Regions from separate parts of the Homo sapiens genome. Here region 1 is linked to region 2. The links come from fine-mapping of genetic effects on gene expression. Tissue or cell type: whole blood. Region 2 holds a variant in brackets; the other region holds the start of a gene. All regions are shown on one strand. Distances are between the middles of the regions.

Region 1 (5,000 bases), 24 kb after region 2:
GAGACGGAGTCTGGCTCTGCCACCCTGCCACCCAGGCTGAAGTACAGTGGTGTGATCTAGGCTCACTGCAACCTCTGCCTCCAGGGTTCAAGTGATTCTCCTGCCTTGGCCTCCTGAGTAGCTGGGATTACAGGCATGCACCACCATGCCCAGCTATTTATTTTTTTTAGTAGAGATGGGGTTTCAAAATGTTGGCCAGGCTGGTCTTGAACTCCTGACCTCAAGTGATCCGCCCACCTCAGCCTCCCAAAGTGCTGGGATTACAGCTGTGAGCCACCGCGCCCAGCCCTGGCCTCTTTTTTTAAGTTATTTATTTATTTTTGAGACAGAGTCTCACTCTGTCGCCCAGGCTGTGGTGCAGTGGCATGGTCTTGGTTCACTGCAACCTCTGCCTCCTGGGTTCAAGTGATTCTCCTGCCTCAGCCTCTGGAGTAGGTGGGATTACAGGCACCCGCCACCATACCTGGCTAATTTTCTTTTTTTTTTTTTGAGACAAAGTCTTGCTCTTGTCCCCCAGTCTGGAGTGCAATGGCACGATCTCGGCTCACTGCAACCTCCGCTTCCCAGGTTCATGCAATTCTCCTGCCTCAGCCTCCCGAGTAGCTGGGATTACAGGCACATACCACCACGCCCAGCTAGTTTTTCGTATTTTAAGTAGAGACAGGGTTTCACCATGTTGGCCAGGCTGGTCTCAAACTCCTGACCTCAGGTGATCTGTCTGCCTCGGCCTCCCAAAGTGCTGTGATTACAGGCATGAGCCACCGCACCCGGCTGACTAATTTTTGTATTTATAGTAGAGACAGGGTTTCACCATGTTGGCCAGGCTGGTCTCGAACTGCTGACCTCATGATCTGCCCGCCTCGGCCTCCCAAAGTGCTGGGATTACAGGCGTGAGCCACCGTGCCCGGCCAGTTTATTTACTTATTTTTAAGAGGCGGGCGTCTTGCTCTGTAACCCAGGCTGGAGTGCAGTGGTGCGATCATAGCTCACTGCAGCCTCCAACTCCCGGGCTCAAGTGATCCTCCTGCCTCAGCCTTCCAAGTAGGTGGGATTACAGGAACACACCACCATGCCTGGCTAATTTTTTGTAGTTTTTGTAGAGATGGGGGGGTCTCACTATGTTGCACAGGCGGGTCTCAAACTCCTGGGCTCAAGTGATCTTCCTGCCCTGGCTTCCCAAAGTGTTGGGATTACAGGCATGAGCCACCGCGCTCAGGCAAGGCAACTTCTGACAATATAATTGTGCTGTGAGCGAGGTAAAGCCAGGCTTGGAGAAGGCTCCGATTGATGATCCTTGGGTCGGGGCGAACAGTGGGTCCTCAAACAGGGCCCACGTTTCAAGTCCTGGAAAACCCACCTATCTTAGCGGGCAGGTATATCCGATGTCTCCGTTGAAGGCCTTCAGTGAGGTGGCTTCGTCTCTTGAGGTTTATGTCCAGGATCAGGGCTGCTCTTCCACTCGGGGTCACAACCTCTGGCTCACCACCTTGTCAGGAGCCAGCCCACTAAGTCACGTTTCAGGCCTGAAAACCAACAACAAAAGATCCGTAAAGACAGAAATCCTGGGACTGGCTCCTAACAACGGCCAGTGACAAGCTTTGTGGCAGTGAGCAGAGGTGTCCCTCAGGCTCAGCTCAGTCTCTGTGGGTTGCAGGACCTGCCCTTGGAGGTGGGCCTGGGTGGGAGGTCTTAGGGCCCCAGGACCTGGGCCACCTGGGGCTTTTTTTTTTTTTTTCTTTTTGAGATGGAGTCTTGCTCTGTCGCCCAGACTGGAGTGCAGTGGTGCAATCTTGGCTCACTGCAAGCTCCACCTCCTGGGTTCAAGCGATTCTCCTGCCTCAGCTTCCTAAGTAGCTCGGATTACAGGCGCCCACCATCATGCACGGCTAATTTTTGTATTTTTAGTAGAGGCGGGGTTTCACCATGTTGGTCAGGCTGGTCTCAAACTCCTCACCTTGTGATCTGCCCACCTCGGCCTCCCAAAGTGCTGGGATTACAGGCATGAGCCACCGCGCCCAGCCCACCTGGGGCATTTTTGTTGCTGTACAATAGAAACAAGTTCTCTATATGTTCCCCAGGCTGGTCCAAACTCCTGGGCTCAAGTGATCCTCCCACCTAGACCTCCCAAAGTGCTGGGATTTCAGGCATGAGCCGCAGTGGCCGGTCAGAACCTGGGGCCCTTTTGAACTTTGATTCCTCAGCAATTTTGTCAGCCCTGGCTCGGGCTGAGAAGCCCCTGTGAAGCCAGAGAGGGAAAGGGACCTGTCCAGGGTCACACAGGAATCATGCGTCAAGCCTCCCCAGCCACGGACTTGTCTCCATCCAGGGCATTTCAGCCCCTGCAGGGCAGTGGCCTGCCCCTCCTCCTTGGAGCCAGGAAGGGATGCAGTGCCACAGGGATCTGGCTCTGTCCCAGGCCCTGTGGGGCTGGCAGTTGAGTAAGCAGTCAGGCTGGGCGCACCCATCCCTCCCCCACTCCCCACTGCCCAGCACAGTGCATTCATGCAGCTGGGCCCCACCCCATCTCCAGAGGCACCTTCCACTAGCAACAGTCTCCCCAGGCACAACACAGCTAACACAAGGCCCCGCAGGCAGGACTCTGGGACAGACGCAGGCCAGGTGAGCATCTGAACAAGGGGCAGTCGGCCAGGGTGGGCTTGCGGGAGTCCCCACCTTGACCTCTCTCCCTTCCAGCTGCCCAGAGCCCAGACCAAGCATGGACGCCGTGGATGCCACCATGGAGAAACTCCGGGCACAGTGCCTGTCCCGCGGGGCCTCGGGCATCCAGGGCCTGGCCAGGTGAGCTGTCCCCTCTCACCTTCCTGACCCCGGCCCCTGAGACCACTGTTCCAACCGTGTCCCCTGCCTCCAGGTTTTTCCGCCAACTAGACCGGGACGGGAGCAGATCCCTGGACGCTGATGAGTTCCGGCAGGGTCTGGCCAAACTCGGGCTGGTGCTGGACCAGGCGGAGGCAGAGGGTGTGTGCAGGAAGTGGGACCGCAATGGCAGCGGGACGCTGGATCTGGAGGAGTTCCTTCGGGCGCTGCGGGTGAGCCCCCACCTCACAGTCAAGGCGTGTGCCCTGGGCATGGGGCGACAGAGGATGCTGAGATGCGGAGACGGGGACTCCTCCCTAAGAGCTGCTGTTAAGAGGCGCCTGCTGGGGCATACAGCCCCAGTGCTCTGCACAGCGTCTTGGGGGTTTGGGTGTGCTACCCACCACCCCCAGTCACCACCTCCTGTCCCAGCCCCCCATGTCCCAGGCCCGGGAGGCTGTCATCGCAGCTGCATTTGCCAAGCTGGACCGCAGTGGGGACGGCGTCGTGACGGTGGACGACCTCCGCGGGGTGTACAGTGGCCGTGCCCACCCCAAGGTGCGCAGTGGGGAGTGGACCGAGGACGAGGTGCTGCGCCGCTTCCTGGACAACTTCGACTCCTCTGAGAAGGACGGGCAGGTGGGTGGCTGCGCGGGGGGCCCCCTCCCCAGGCAGTTCCTCGGCCGTGCCCCCTCACGGCCCTCTGTTCCCAGGTCACACTGGCGGAATTCCAGGACTACTACAGCGGCGTGAGTGCCTCCATGAACACGGATGAGGAGTTCGTGGCCATGATGACCAGTGCCTGGCAGCTGTGAGCAGCTCCGGCTCAGCCCTGCTGCCCTGGCCTGTCACTCCCCACCCCTGCCGGAGACCTCCCTTCCCTGGGCCCCTTCTCTCCTGGGCAGCCACACCACAGAGCGGGGAGGGGCAGGTGGGGGAATGGAGGCTGCAGGACTGGCTAGACCAGGTCCCTGCCGGTCCACCAGGCGGAGGTGGGACAAAGGTCCTAACAGGAGTCACTGGCTCAGGACCCCAGGGAGAAACGCTCTCCCCACCCACGCCATGCTGACCAGAGATCTTGCAGCCCCTGTGGATGCCCCCGCCGAGGTCCCCCGATCCCCGCACCCGGACTGCTGCTCCCTGCCCCTCCCTTGCGGGTCCCCCAGGAAGCCAGGTGACCCCAGGTGGGAGGCTGTGTGTGGAGGCCATCCTGGAAGGAAGTTTAGACCTGCCCAGGTGTGGAGCGAGGGGCACAGGGGCATCCTAACCTCAGAAACTGAAATAAAGCCTTTGAAAAAAAAATCTGTAAAACATCAACCCCCAATCAGAAGATGGCAAATGGGGAATAAAAATAGCAGGTAACATGTCCAGCGGGCCCAGTATCTACATTCTGGTGAGCGGCCCGAGGCTGGGAGCTCTGGGCGGGGGCAGACCGGCGGGGCCTTGCAGCAGGGGTGGGGGTAAAGTGCGGGTGGTGGTGGAGAGAACAGGGCTGTGGCTGGACCCCAGCACTGGTGACACGCTGGGTGGGAGCATGAGGCCCCAGGCTGCTGGAGGTCCTCGCCCGGGGAGGTGGAGGCCGTTCCTGGTCAGGGGCTTCCTGAGGCCCCTGGGGCATGCAGAGGCCAGGGTTTTAGTTAAAAGTTTAATGTAGTTCCCAAATACATTTCATATGACAATCTTACATAAATGTTCCAAAACACATGGGCGTTATCTCGTTGTACTCGTCACTAGCTGGCTAAGGCTTAAAGCAGAGACGTGTGACTGGGTCTCTCGGGAGGGCCTCTGGTTCTTCCCGGGCTCAGGCTTGCTGGGGGCTGGGGGCCAGGGCTCTGGCGACCTAGAGGTGTGGACGGCACAGCTGCAGGAGGCCTTCTCTTAACCCTCCGAGAGTGGGACTGGGAGATTTCCTCTGAAGTCCCAAAGAGGCCCTGTGCCCAGGGGACCTCCTCCTCGGCCTCCCAGGTGGGTGGTGCAAGCTGGCTCTTGGCCATGCTCCAGGCTCGGGTGGGCACAGGCGTCCACTCCAGTGTGCTGCGTGCTTGTGAGACTGCCTGTTCTGGGACCAGCCCCTGGGCTCTTCCACCAAGATTTGGTGAGGGTCCCCCTCTGCCTCTCACAGAAGCCCCTGGCCCTGGACTGTCCTGGGGGCAGGGACACCTGTGGCTGGGGAAGGGATGGCC
Region 2 (10,692 bases):
CCTCCACCTCCCAGGTTCAAGTGATTCTTCTGTTTCAGCCTCCCAAGTAGCTGGGATTACAGGCATGCGCCACCATGCCCGGCTAATTTTTTGTATTTTTAGTAGAGATGGGGTTTCACCACATTGGCCAGGTTGGTCTCAAACTCCTGAGCTCAGGTGATCTGCCCACCTTGGCCTCCCAAAGTGCTGGGATTACAGGCGTGAGCCACCACATCCAGCCAAAAATGACATTTATTACAATTTCTTGGCTGGGCTCGGTGGCTCATGCCTGTAATCCCAGCACTTTGGGAGGCCGAGGCAGGCGGATCACAAGGTCAGGAGATCGAGACCATCCTGGCTAACACGGTGAAACCCCGTCTCTACTAAAAATACAAAAAATTAGCTGGGCGTGGTGGAGGCACCTGTAGTCCCAGCTACTCGGGAGGCTGAGGCAGGACGATGGTGTGAACAGGGAAGGCGGAGCTTGCAGTGAGCCAAGATTGTGCCACTGCACTCCAGCCTGGGTGACAGAGTGAGACTCCGTCTCAAAAAAAAAAAAAAAAATTTCTTCATTGCTGCCCGGTGTATAGTAGCAGAAGACTGGAGGCCAGGACATGTGCTTTCACCAGAACAATGGTCCAGCCTCAAGATGGAATATTACACTGTCCTTACAAAAGAGGGGGAAGTTCTGCACTCGAAGAAAAGATCCGAGATGCATTGTTAGGAGTCAACTACGCTGAGCTGCAAGAAAGTACGGGGAGTGTGATGTTGTTTCCGTGGGGAAAAGAAAATATACAGACATGCTTGTTTTGGCGTGGAACATGGCTGGAAGGAGAAACAAGAAACCGACTAATGGCCTCTGGGGATGGCGTGGGGCTTGGGGAGTGGCTGGTATTTATTCTAAACACCCTCTAGAATCTTTTGAATTCTATGGCATGCGTCTGTCTTACCTCTAAAAGAAGGAGGATAAACTGTAAAATGCATTTTAGAAAGCATACTGAGAAAGGCCGGGCGCGGTGGCTCATGCCTGTAATCCCAGCACTTTGGGAGGCCGAGGCCGGAGGATCATGAGGTCAGGAGATCAAGACCATCCTGGCTAACACAGTGAAACCCCGTCTCTACTAAAAATACAAAAAAATTGGCCGGGCTTGGTGCGGGCGCCTGTAGTCCCACCTACTCGGGAGGCTGAAGCAGGAGAATGGCGTGAACCCGGGAGGCAAAGCTTGCAGTGAGCCGAGATGGCGCCACTGCACTCCAGCCTGGGCGACAGAGCGAGACTCCGTCTCAAAAAAAAAAAAGTGCTGAGAAAAAAAAAATGGACAAAATAGAAGACTTTGGATGGGTTTGAAAAGGCTGGGGTGGCAGGGGTGGTGGCTCTAGATTTCAGGCCAGGCCATCGCTCTGCCTGCTGCCCCTCAGTTTGGGCTGAATCCCCCACCAGGCCCCCCAACGAGGCCCCCCAGAGCCCTGCTCTTGTCCTGGCTCACACCTTTCCTACTCTGGTTCAGCGAGGGTTCAGACCAGTGGGGACCCCTGGAAGGTGAGATGTGGGCTGGGCTGGGGCCAGGGACAGGGCCAGGCCTGCCGGAGCCCCTTGCAGCTCGGCCCGACCACCCAGCTTTCCAGGAAGCCCGAGGGGAGGCTTGGCTGGCTCAGAGGAAGGACCTGTGTGCGCCAATGGTGGGGCTGGGGGCCAAACCAGGCCCCTCTGAGCGCCCACGCTCTGAGGAGGACCACAGCAAGTGGAGGGAGGCTGGCTAGAAAAGAGATACACAGGGAGGAAGGCCCGAGCTTCCCTATGCCTCAGTTTCCCCATAGGCCAAATGGCTCGCTGGCTGTGTGGCCCTTGTGGACACAGGGGATGCCTGAGATGATGTGGGACCAGGGAACTATGGCTCCACTGGGTCCTAGCCTTGGACGCCAAGCCAGATAGGATAAGGGGGGGCAAGTCCCGCCCTGACTTCTGGAGCCCTGAAGTAATGACTAACCCGGCTTTAGGCTTTAAGGCTGGGGCCTCCTACCAGAACACAGCCAGGAGAGAGTCACGTCCTCTTTCCTAAGATCTCTACCCCTGTCTACTCCCTCTTCCTCCCTCTGTGCTCTGCTGGGGACCCTGTGGGTACAGGGATGTGGCACCCCCAAGGCATTCAGGGCTCTGGGCCTCTCTTTTTTTAGAGACAGGGTCTCGCTCTGTCACCCAGGCTGGAGTGCGGTGGCAGGATCATAGCTTACTGCAGCCTCGAACTCCTGGGCTCAAGCGATTCTCCTACCTTAGCCTCCTAAGTAGCTGGGACTACAGGTGTGTACCACCATGCCTGGCTCCAGCCCCCTTTTTGGCTCTTTTGGGGGTACCCTAGTGGGCCAGTGTTGGTCCCAGGGGTCTTTGTCAGGACAAGGGAAATGTTTGGCCCAGAAGTGCCTGTCTATGGTTTAAGCAAGATCTGCAGCTGGCCACAGTGACTCCCGCCTGTAATCCCAGCACTTTGGGAGGCTGAAGCAGGAGGGTCACTTGAGGCCGGGAGTTCAAGACCAGCCTGGACAACACAGTGAGACTCCATCTCTACAAAAAATTTAGAAATTAGCCAGGTGTGTTGGTGCATGCCTGTAGTCCCAGCTTCTTGGAAGCTGAGGCAGAAGAATCGTTTGAGCCCAGGAGTTTGAGGTTGCAGTAAGCTATGATCTCACCACTGCACTCCAATCTGGGCAACAGGGCAAGACCTTGTCTTCTTCTTATTTTTTGAGATGGAGTTTTGCTCTTGTCACTCAGGCTGGAGTGCAGTGGCTCGATCTCAGCTCACTGCAACCTCCACCTCCTGGGTTCAAGTGTTTCTCCTGCCTTAGTCTCCTGAGTAGCTGGTATTACAGGCTCACACCACGATGCCTAGCTGATTTTCATTTATTTATTTATTTATTTTGTTTATTTTTTTTTGGAGATGGAGTCTTGCTCTATCACTCAGGCTGGAGTGCAGTGACGCAATCTCGGCTCACTGCAACCTCCGCCTCTCAGGTTCAAGCGATTCTCATGTCTCAGCCTCCCAAGTAGCTGGGATTACAGGCACCTGCCACCACGCCTAATTTTTGCATTTTTAGTAGAGACCGGGTTTTGCCATGTTGGCCAGGCTGGTCTCGAACTCCTGGCCTCAAGTGATCTGCCAATCTCAGCCTCCCAAAGTGCTGAGATTACAGGTGTCAGCCACTGCGCCTGGCTAAGACCCTGTCTTTCTTTTTCTTTCTCTTTTTTTTTTGAGATGGAGTCTCACTCTGTGGCCCAGGCTGGAGCGCAGTGGCGCGATCTCGGCTCACTGCAAGCTCCGCCTCCCAGGTTCACGCCATTCTCTCGCCTCAGCCTCCCGAGCAGCTGGAACTACAGGCGCCCGCCACCACACCCCGCTGAATTTTTTTTGTATTTTTTAGTAGAGACAGGGTTTTTCTCCATGCTAGCCAGGATGGTCTCGATCTCCTGACCTCGTGATCCGCCCACCTCGGCCTCCCAAAGTACTGGGATTACAGGCGTGAGCCACCACGCCCGGCCAAGACCCTTTCTTAAAAAAAAAAAAAAAAAATACACACACACACACACAGTAGTTGCTTCATGATGGGTGTATGTTTGGAGAAATTCGTCATTAGATGATTTTGTCATGCACAAACATCCCAGCGTACACACGCCTAGATGGTAGAACGTACTGCACACCAGGCTTCATGGTACTGTCTACTGCTCCCAGGCTATAAACCTGCAGAGCATGTGACTGTACAGAATACTGTGGGCAACTGTAACATGATGACAAATATTTGTCTCTAAACATCCACAAACAGAAAAGGTACAATAAAAATATGGTATAAAATCTTATGGGAGCCGGGTGCGGTGGCTCACACTTGTATTCCCAGCACTTTGGGAGGCCGAGGCGGGCAGATCACTTAAGGTCAGGAGTTTGAGACCAGCCTGGCCAACTTGATGAAACCCCATCTCTACTACAAATACAAAAGAATTAGGCGGATGTGGTGGCGGGAGCCTGTAATCCCAGCTACTCGGGAGGCTGAGGCAGAGAATTGCTTGAACCCAGGAGGTGGAGGTTGCAGTGAGCCGAGATCTCCCCACTGCACTCCAACCTGAGTGACAGAGTGAAACTCCATCTCAGAAAAAAAAAACAAAAACAGGCCGGGCGCAGTGGCTCATGCCTGTAATCCCAGCACTTTGGGAGGCCGAGGCGGGCGGATCACGAGGTCAGGAGATTGAGACCATCCTGGCTAACACGGTGAAACCCGGTCTCTACTAAAAATACAAAAAAATTAGCCGGGCGTGGCAGTGGGCGCCTGTAGTCCCAGCTACTCAGGAGGCTGAGGCAGGAGAATGGCGTCAACCTGGGAGGCGGAGCTTGCAGTGAGCCACTGCACTCCAGCCTGGGTGACAATGTGAGAGAGCAAGACTCTGTCTCAAAAAACCAAACTAAACAAAAAAAAAGAAAAGAAAAAAAAAGAAACAAAAACAAAAACAAAAAACAACAAATTAACTGAGTGTGGTGGTGGGCACCTGTAATCCCAGATACTCGGGAGGCTGAGGCTGGAGAATCGCTTGAACCCCTAGGCGGCAGAGACTCAGTGTCAAAAAAAAAAAAAAAAAAAAAGTCTCATGGGACTCCCTTCACATATGTGGTCCGTCAGTGACCGAAATGCTGTTATACTGCACATGACTGTTTGCTGAATGAACTCTGAGTCTTGCCCCCGGGTCTGGAGGGCTTCTCTTCCCGTGCCTTCCCGCACTCCACTGCAGCCATCATCTCATGTGGGGAGAGTGAGAAGGACCCTGATCCCCCTCCGAGAGCCTATACCACCCAGGCAGCAAAGCAGGGCCAGGCAGGGTGCACAGCCACCCCCAAGTGGTTCTCAGGCCCCACCTCTGGACCTCCTACCCTTTGCAGACCTGGAGATTCATTCATTTGTTTATCCATTCATTCATTCCACACATAGTTCTGGAGCCCTGCTGCGTTCCTCGGCTGGGTGCCGGGGTGTAGGCAGAGGATATAACAGCCAGGATACGTCCCAGTCCTCAAGGAGGTGCACATAAATAACACACGTGATGGTGACGTGGGACTTAGAAACTGGCAGGGGCTACGGGCAAAACTAGAAGGCAAATGAGTGTGGAGTGCTGGTGGCCTGGGGACGGGGGATGAGGAGGTGGCTTGTGAGCTGAGAATTGAAGGAGGTGAGGGGTGAGCTTGGGGACATCTAGGGGACAGGCATTGCAGGCAGAGGGTATGGACTATGCAAAGGCCCTAGGGCAGGACTGTGCCAGGGGTTTTGGAGGAAGAGTGAGGAGGCTGGTGGGGCTGGAGCAGTGAAGAGGGGAGGGGAGGAGAGGGAGGGGAGGGAGAGGAGGGGTCGGGACACACAGGGCATAGTGGGCTGTAGAGAGGATTTGGGCTTTTCCCCCAAGTGGGGTGGGAGCCATGGAGGACTGTGGGCAGGGGAGGGGCGGGACCTGACTTAGGGGCTCACAGGCGCCTTCTGGCTCAGGGGGTAGCCGGGTGACCAGGGCAGAGGGGACTACGCTTGTCGTGATGATGGAATCAGACTAGAGGCAGATCTGGGACAGATTCTGAAGGCAAAGGGGCTCGAGATGCGGGGAGGGCGGGAGCAGCTCTTCAGTCCCAGGAGGGGCACACATCAGCCCCGTGGGGTCTTCTCAGCTGTGTCCCACCCCAATCATGTCAAACACATTTATAGGAGCCCACAGCCCACACTCAACACAAGTTTAAAGGAGTACAGTTGTGCTCAAGTTGGCAGCGAAAACACCTTCCTTTCTCAGTGAGGTATTTTCTTTTTTTTTTTTTTTGAGACGGAGTCTCACTCTGTCGCCCAAGCTGGAGTGCAGTGGCGTGATCTTGGCTCACTGCAAGCTCCGCCTCCCGGGTTCACGCCATTCTCGTGCCTCAGCCTCCCGAGTAGCTGGGACTACAGACGCCCGCCACCATGCCAGACTGTTTTTGTATTCTTAGTAGAGACAGGGTTTCACCGTGTTAGTCAGGATGGTCTCAATCTCCTGACCTTGTGATCCGCCCGCCTCGGCCTCCCAAAGTGCTGGGATTACAGGCGTGAGCCACCGCGCCCAGCCCTTAGTGGGGTGTTTTCGCTCCAATCTCCAAGACCACTAAGAAAGTCTTAAAGGAACAAATTGCCATTTTCCAAACAATAGCTATTCTTAGGAGAAGTAACACTTCTTTTAGCTACTGCCAGGCCCTGGGAAGTCACCTCCCGGGCCTCAGTTTCCTCATCTGTAAAA[T/C]AGGACTAATGCCTAACAGAGCTCACGCACGGCTGCGCAGACTAAAATGAGCCAAAAATAATAATAACAACTGCACCTGCCTGGCAGGTGGGAAAAGCTTGATGTTCCCCACCCCCACCCCCCTTTTTTTTGTCTTGTGAATGTTTTCTTGGCTCACCCAAGAGCTTAGAGACCCCCGGCGGCGGGGCCTGGGTCAGCGCCAGCCCAGGCCAGCGTTATTTATTTATTTATTTTTGATACAAAGTCTCGCTCACTGTCTCCCAGGCTGGAGTACAGTGACATGATCTCGGCTCACTGCAACCTCCACCTCCCAGGTTCAAGGGATTCTCATGCCTCAGCCTCCCAAGTAGCTGGGATTACAGGTGCCTGCCACCACACCTGGCTTATTTTTGTATAGTAGAGACAGGGTTTCACTGTGTTGGCCAGGGTGGTCTGAAACTCCTGACCTCAAGTGATCCCCCAGCCTCGGCCTCCCAAAGTACTGGGATTACAGGCCTGAGCCACGGCGCAGGGCCAGGCCGGTGTTCTTGGAGCCTTGTCTCTGCTGGGGATGTGTCTCCAGGGATGGATTCTCGGGAAGCAAGTGTGTGCCCTGCAGCCCCCAGGCACCTCTCCTGGACCAGGAGGCCCCTGATCGCCCACTGCTCTCCCTCACAGCAGGCCTCTGCTGTTGCTGTGTGCTCTGCCTGGACCAGCCTCCCGCTGGGTACACATGGAAAAGCCTCTTCATCCTTGGGCCCTCTCTGCTGTGCCGCCTCCTCCTCTAGGAAGCCCTCCTAGCTCCCCAGGGAGGCTCTGCCCCTCCTCAGTTCCAGCCCTGACTGCCTGGGGCTGGGAAGGGCTCCATGAAGTTCAAGGTAAACTCAGGAAGGGTCCCCCACAGCCCCTCAGGGAGCCTGCTGGGACCGATGTTCCAGACGGGGGCCCTCTTGTGTGTGGGGTGGGAGTGACGTCAGCCCTCCACAACCTAGTAAATGTTTATGGGCCGGGGGGCCTCGGCTTTGGGGTTCCCTGGAGCCCAGCAAGAGACCACCCCCTCGTGTTCCATTCTGGGGGGCCCGTCCTGCAGGCGAGGTGGGGGCGCCTGGCAGGCCTGCGCCAACCCTGGCGGCTAGCCCGGAATGGGCTGGGTGGGCGGCGAGCACAGCTCCTGGTCTGAGCCGTCGGCTCCCTTGAACACAGGGAGGCACCTGGGGCTGGGAGGTGCGAAGGGGCGTGCGGCCTTTAAATTTCAAGCTCCACTACCCAGGGTGGGCCTCAGCGCGCGCATCCGTGGAAGAGGGCTAAGAGATCTGGTACAGGGTTTGGGCCGCACACGGGCCTGGAGGGCCGGGGAAGGGCTTGCAGGGGGCGGAGGCCTGCGTGGAACCAGTCCCAGAAGCGGCCATGGTGCAGGGCTGAGGGTGACCGTCGTGGGGACGTGGACTAGTCTTTCCTCCTGTCCAGCCTTCGGTGTCCTTGGCTGGAGGTTTGGGGCTGTATTGCCCATTCCTAGAAGCCATCACTTCCCGGCTGCGGTGGGCAGGATGCATGGGAAGGAAGGGGGATGAGGGACAGACAAGGCCTGGAGTGCGGAGGAAGGGATGGAATCTGACGCCTGTGGTCACCGCGGGGCTGGGGGCCTGGGGATGACCGCCCGGGTCCACACTGCCCAGCAGGCCGTGCTGTGGTGGGCGCTGCCCCCTGCCGGCCGCAGTAGAGACAGAGGCCGGTGCCCTCGAGTGGATGCGATGCCCGTGAGTGGATGGGATGCCTGCAGGGAGGTGGAATCGTCTTTCTTTGTGGGGCATCTCTGAGGGGCCCTTATTCCCATTTACCAGGTGGGAAAGCTGAGGCCTGGGTGCTGCCGTCCTCTGAGGACAGAACAAGGAAAGAATCAAGTTCTGGGGTTCGAACCCAGAGTGTTTAACAATGACTCTATTAGGGCTTGGACAGGTGTCAGGGCCCCTGCCCCTCTGGGTGCGGGGTGGGTGTGTCCGCCCTTTCTCAGGGAGCCCGAGGCCCGGGCACCCAGCTCCGGAAGTGGACGTGACCCTGAGCTGTTGCATGCCCCCCTTGTGCTGGAACACGCGTGGACATCTGTGCTCTCTCCAGAGAGGACTTCGAGGCAGGCGCTGGAAGAAGGGACCCAGAATCTCTGTACACAGTGGCTCATGCCTATAATCCCAGCACTCTGGGAGGCTGAGGTGTGAGGACTGCTCGAGGCCAGGAGTTTGAGACCAGCCTGCACAACACAGTGAGATCCTGTCTCTACAAAAAATAAAAATAAAAACAATTAGCTGGCTGTAGTGGTGCACACCTGCAGTCCCAGCTACCAGGGAGGCTGAGATGAGAGAGTCGCATAAGCCAGGAAGGTCAAGGTTCCAGTGAGCCATGATCCTGCCACTGCCCTCCAGCTTGAGAGACAGAGCAAGACTATGTCTCAAAAAGACGAATTTTTGGTAGAGACAGGGTCTCACTGCGTTGCCCAGGCTGGTTCCAAGCTCCTGGCCTCAAGCAATCCTCCCACCTCAACCTCCAAAAGTGCTGAGATTACAGGCTCAAACCACCAGGCCCAGCCTACAACATTTTTTAAAAAAATTAACCAGGCATAGTGGCGGTGGCCATAGTCCTGGCTACTCGGGAGGCTGAGGTGGGAGGATTGCTTGGGCCCGGGAGTTCCAGGCTGAGTTACTACTCGGGGGTGGACAGAGAAGGATATGAGGCTGAAAGTGAAGTTTGGCTTTTCACATCTAGGCCCCGCGGATGGGCTTGAGAAAAGGGAAGAGATGGGGCCGGATACGGGTCAGGAGGGCCATAGCCAGCCCTGCCGGTTCCTGCTGTCCCCGGCCCACCAGCAGGGCCCAGATCCATCCCAGCCAGGGCTGTGCACAGCTCCGCTCCCCTGGGTGGAGCCTGGAGCGCCCTAATTTGCAGCCCACCGCAGCATGTGGGAGCTTGCAGGCTTCCTCTCCAGCTGCCAGGGAGCATGAGCCAGTTCTGGAGAAGGGGCCCGGGGTGGTGCCAGCATTCCAGGGCCACCTAAATCACTGGCCTGACAGGTGGCAGGAAGGGATCGCAATTCTTTCCCTTGTCGCTGCCACCAGCCAGGTGCTGAGGGGGGTCCTGTCCCGCTCTGCCCTAGCCCCAGGGGCTGCGAGTGACCTGCCGGATGGGGACGGCTGCTGGACCAGCCTGTCCGGGGCTCTCCGCTCCAGTGCCCAGGAATTTGGAGACAGGGCCTGGGCGTGTTTTCCACATGTTGTTGGCTTTGGGGACAGGCCCAGAGAAAGGATGGCTCAAGATCTGCAGGGGGGTTGTGACCAGAGCCCACAGCGCTGAGGGAAGGGCTGTGGGCGGCAGGGCCCATTTTCCACTTGCTGGCAGGTCACTGGCACGCTCCTGCCCTGCCCTGGGAACTGGGGGAAGCAGAGGCTGGGGCGCATCCCAGCCGTCTCCCCTCCTGGGCTCCCGATGGCCCCAGCCTGATGCACTACCAGTTCTGTGGGGCCAGGCTGGTACCCTTGGCAGGGACGGCAGGCGGCAGGCAGGCGCGTGTGCAGGGGGCCTTATCTTATCTCCCTTCCTCACTCCCTCCCAGATCCGCCCTCACCGGCTGCTGTGTCGCCGTCATCAAGCCCTCCGGACACTGACACACACACAGACACAGAATTTATTTCTGGACGCATTCTGCAGGCTGGAGGTCCCGGCAGGCACAGGGCTCACACCTTGGGTTTTGCAAACACCTCCCAGCCCTCCAGCCGGCCCATCTTGACCAGGGAGGCCGCTATGCCAAAGTACACGCAGGCGGCGGCGCCAATCCCGTAGTTGTGCGCTGTGGGAGTGGGGAGGTGATGTCAGGCCCGGGTGGGGCTCGGCCGGACCAAGACGCTCCACGCCCTGGCCGGTGCCCACCCTGGGAGCCAGACTGAGACCCCTGACAGGACACTCTCTTCAGGGATTAAGTCACTCAGGAAGAGGGCCCTAGACTCTGGAGATGTGGAAACTGATGCACAGAGGGAGGCCGGAGTCCAGGTTGCTTCCCAGCAGGAACCCAGGCTGTGGGTCCTCATCCCGCCCCACACTGACTTCCCCCTGCGAGGACACCGTGCTGCCCCCAGCTGGGGCTGGGGCAAGGCTGGGCACCGGGCCATGGTGACACATCGGTGTGTCTCAGTCTCTCCTTTGCCCATGGATGCCAGGGCCAGGCCACGCATCTGTCCCGTGGTCTGTGTACCGAGGAGCCCCGACAGTGCCCCCACTTCTCCAGGCTCTCCTGCTCCGAAGCCTCCGGGCCAGAGGAGGAAGGAGGTGTGTCCCCACACACCAGGACCTAAAGGGACTCACACTCTTTGAAGAGAGACAGGGAGGCTGGCTTGGGGACAGGGAGCAGTTCCAGCCTGAGCTGGGCTACAGTCAAGACCTCAACCCACCTGCAACCTCTGACCAGTTCCAGT

The links. PIP is the estimated chance that this variant, and not a neighbour inherited with it, causes the effect. A credible set is the group of variants that fine-mapping cannot tell apart.
Region 1: CAPS starts here. The variant in region 2 is the best candidate, but not a certain one, in a credible set for the expression of CAPS in whole blood (INTERVAL, PIP 0.82).

What each region holds. Positions count from the first base shown.
Region 1 is chr19:5,911,691-5,916,690 of GRCh38, forward strand. It overlaps CAPS (calcyphosine), which reads left to right and starts at 2,564. Exons shown (of 5, transcript NM_004058.5): 1 at 2,564-2,619; 2 at 2,695-2,799; 3 at 2,873-3,050; 4 at 3,250-3,456; 5 at 3,531-4,521. The coding sequence starts at 2,717. The coding sequence ends at 3,632. RANBP3 (RAN binding protein 3) reads right to left here. Exons shown (of 17, transcript NM_007322.3): 17 at 4,449-5,000.
Region 2 is chr19:5,884,785-5,895,476 of GRCh38, forward strand. NDUFA11 (NADH:ubiquinone oxidoreductase subunit A11) reads right to left here. Exons shown (of 4, transcript NM_175614.5): 4 at 9,891-10,070. The coding sequence ends at 9,958. Among named protein-coding and RNA genes, the nearest start is that of NDUFA11, 14 kb to the right of the region's middle. RefSeq lists an enhancer at 7,472-8,278 and silencers at 7,894-7,953, 8,520-8,720. The variant T/C (reference allele first, on the strand shown) is at 6,257.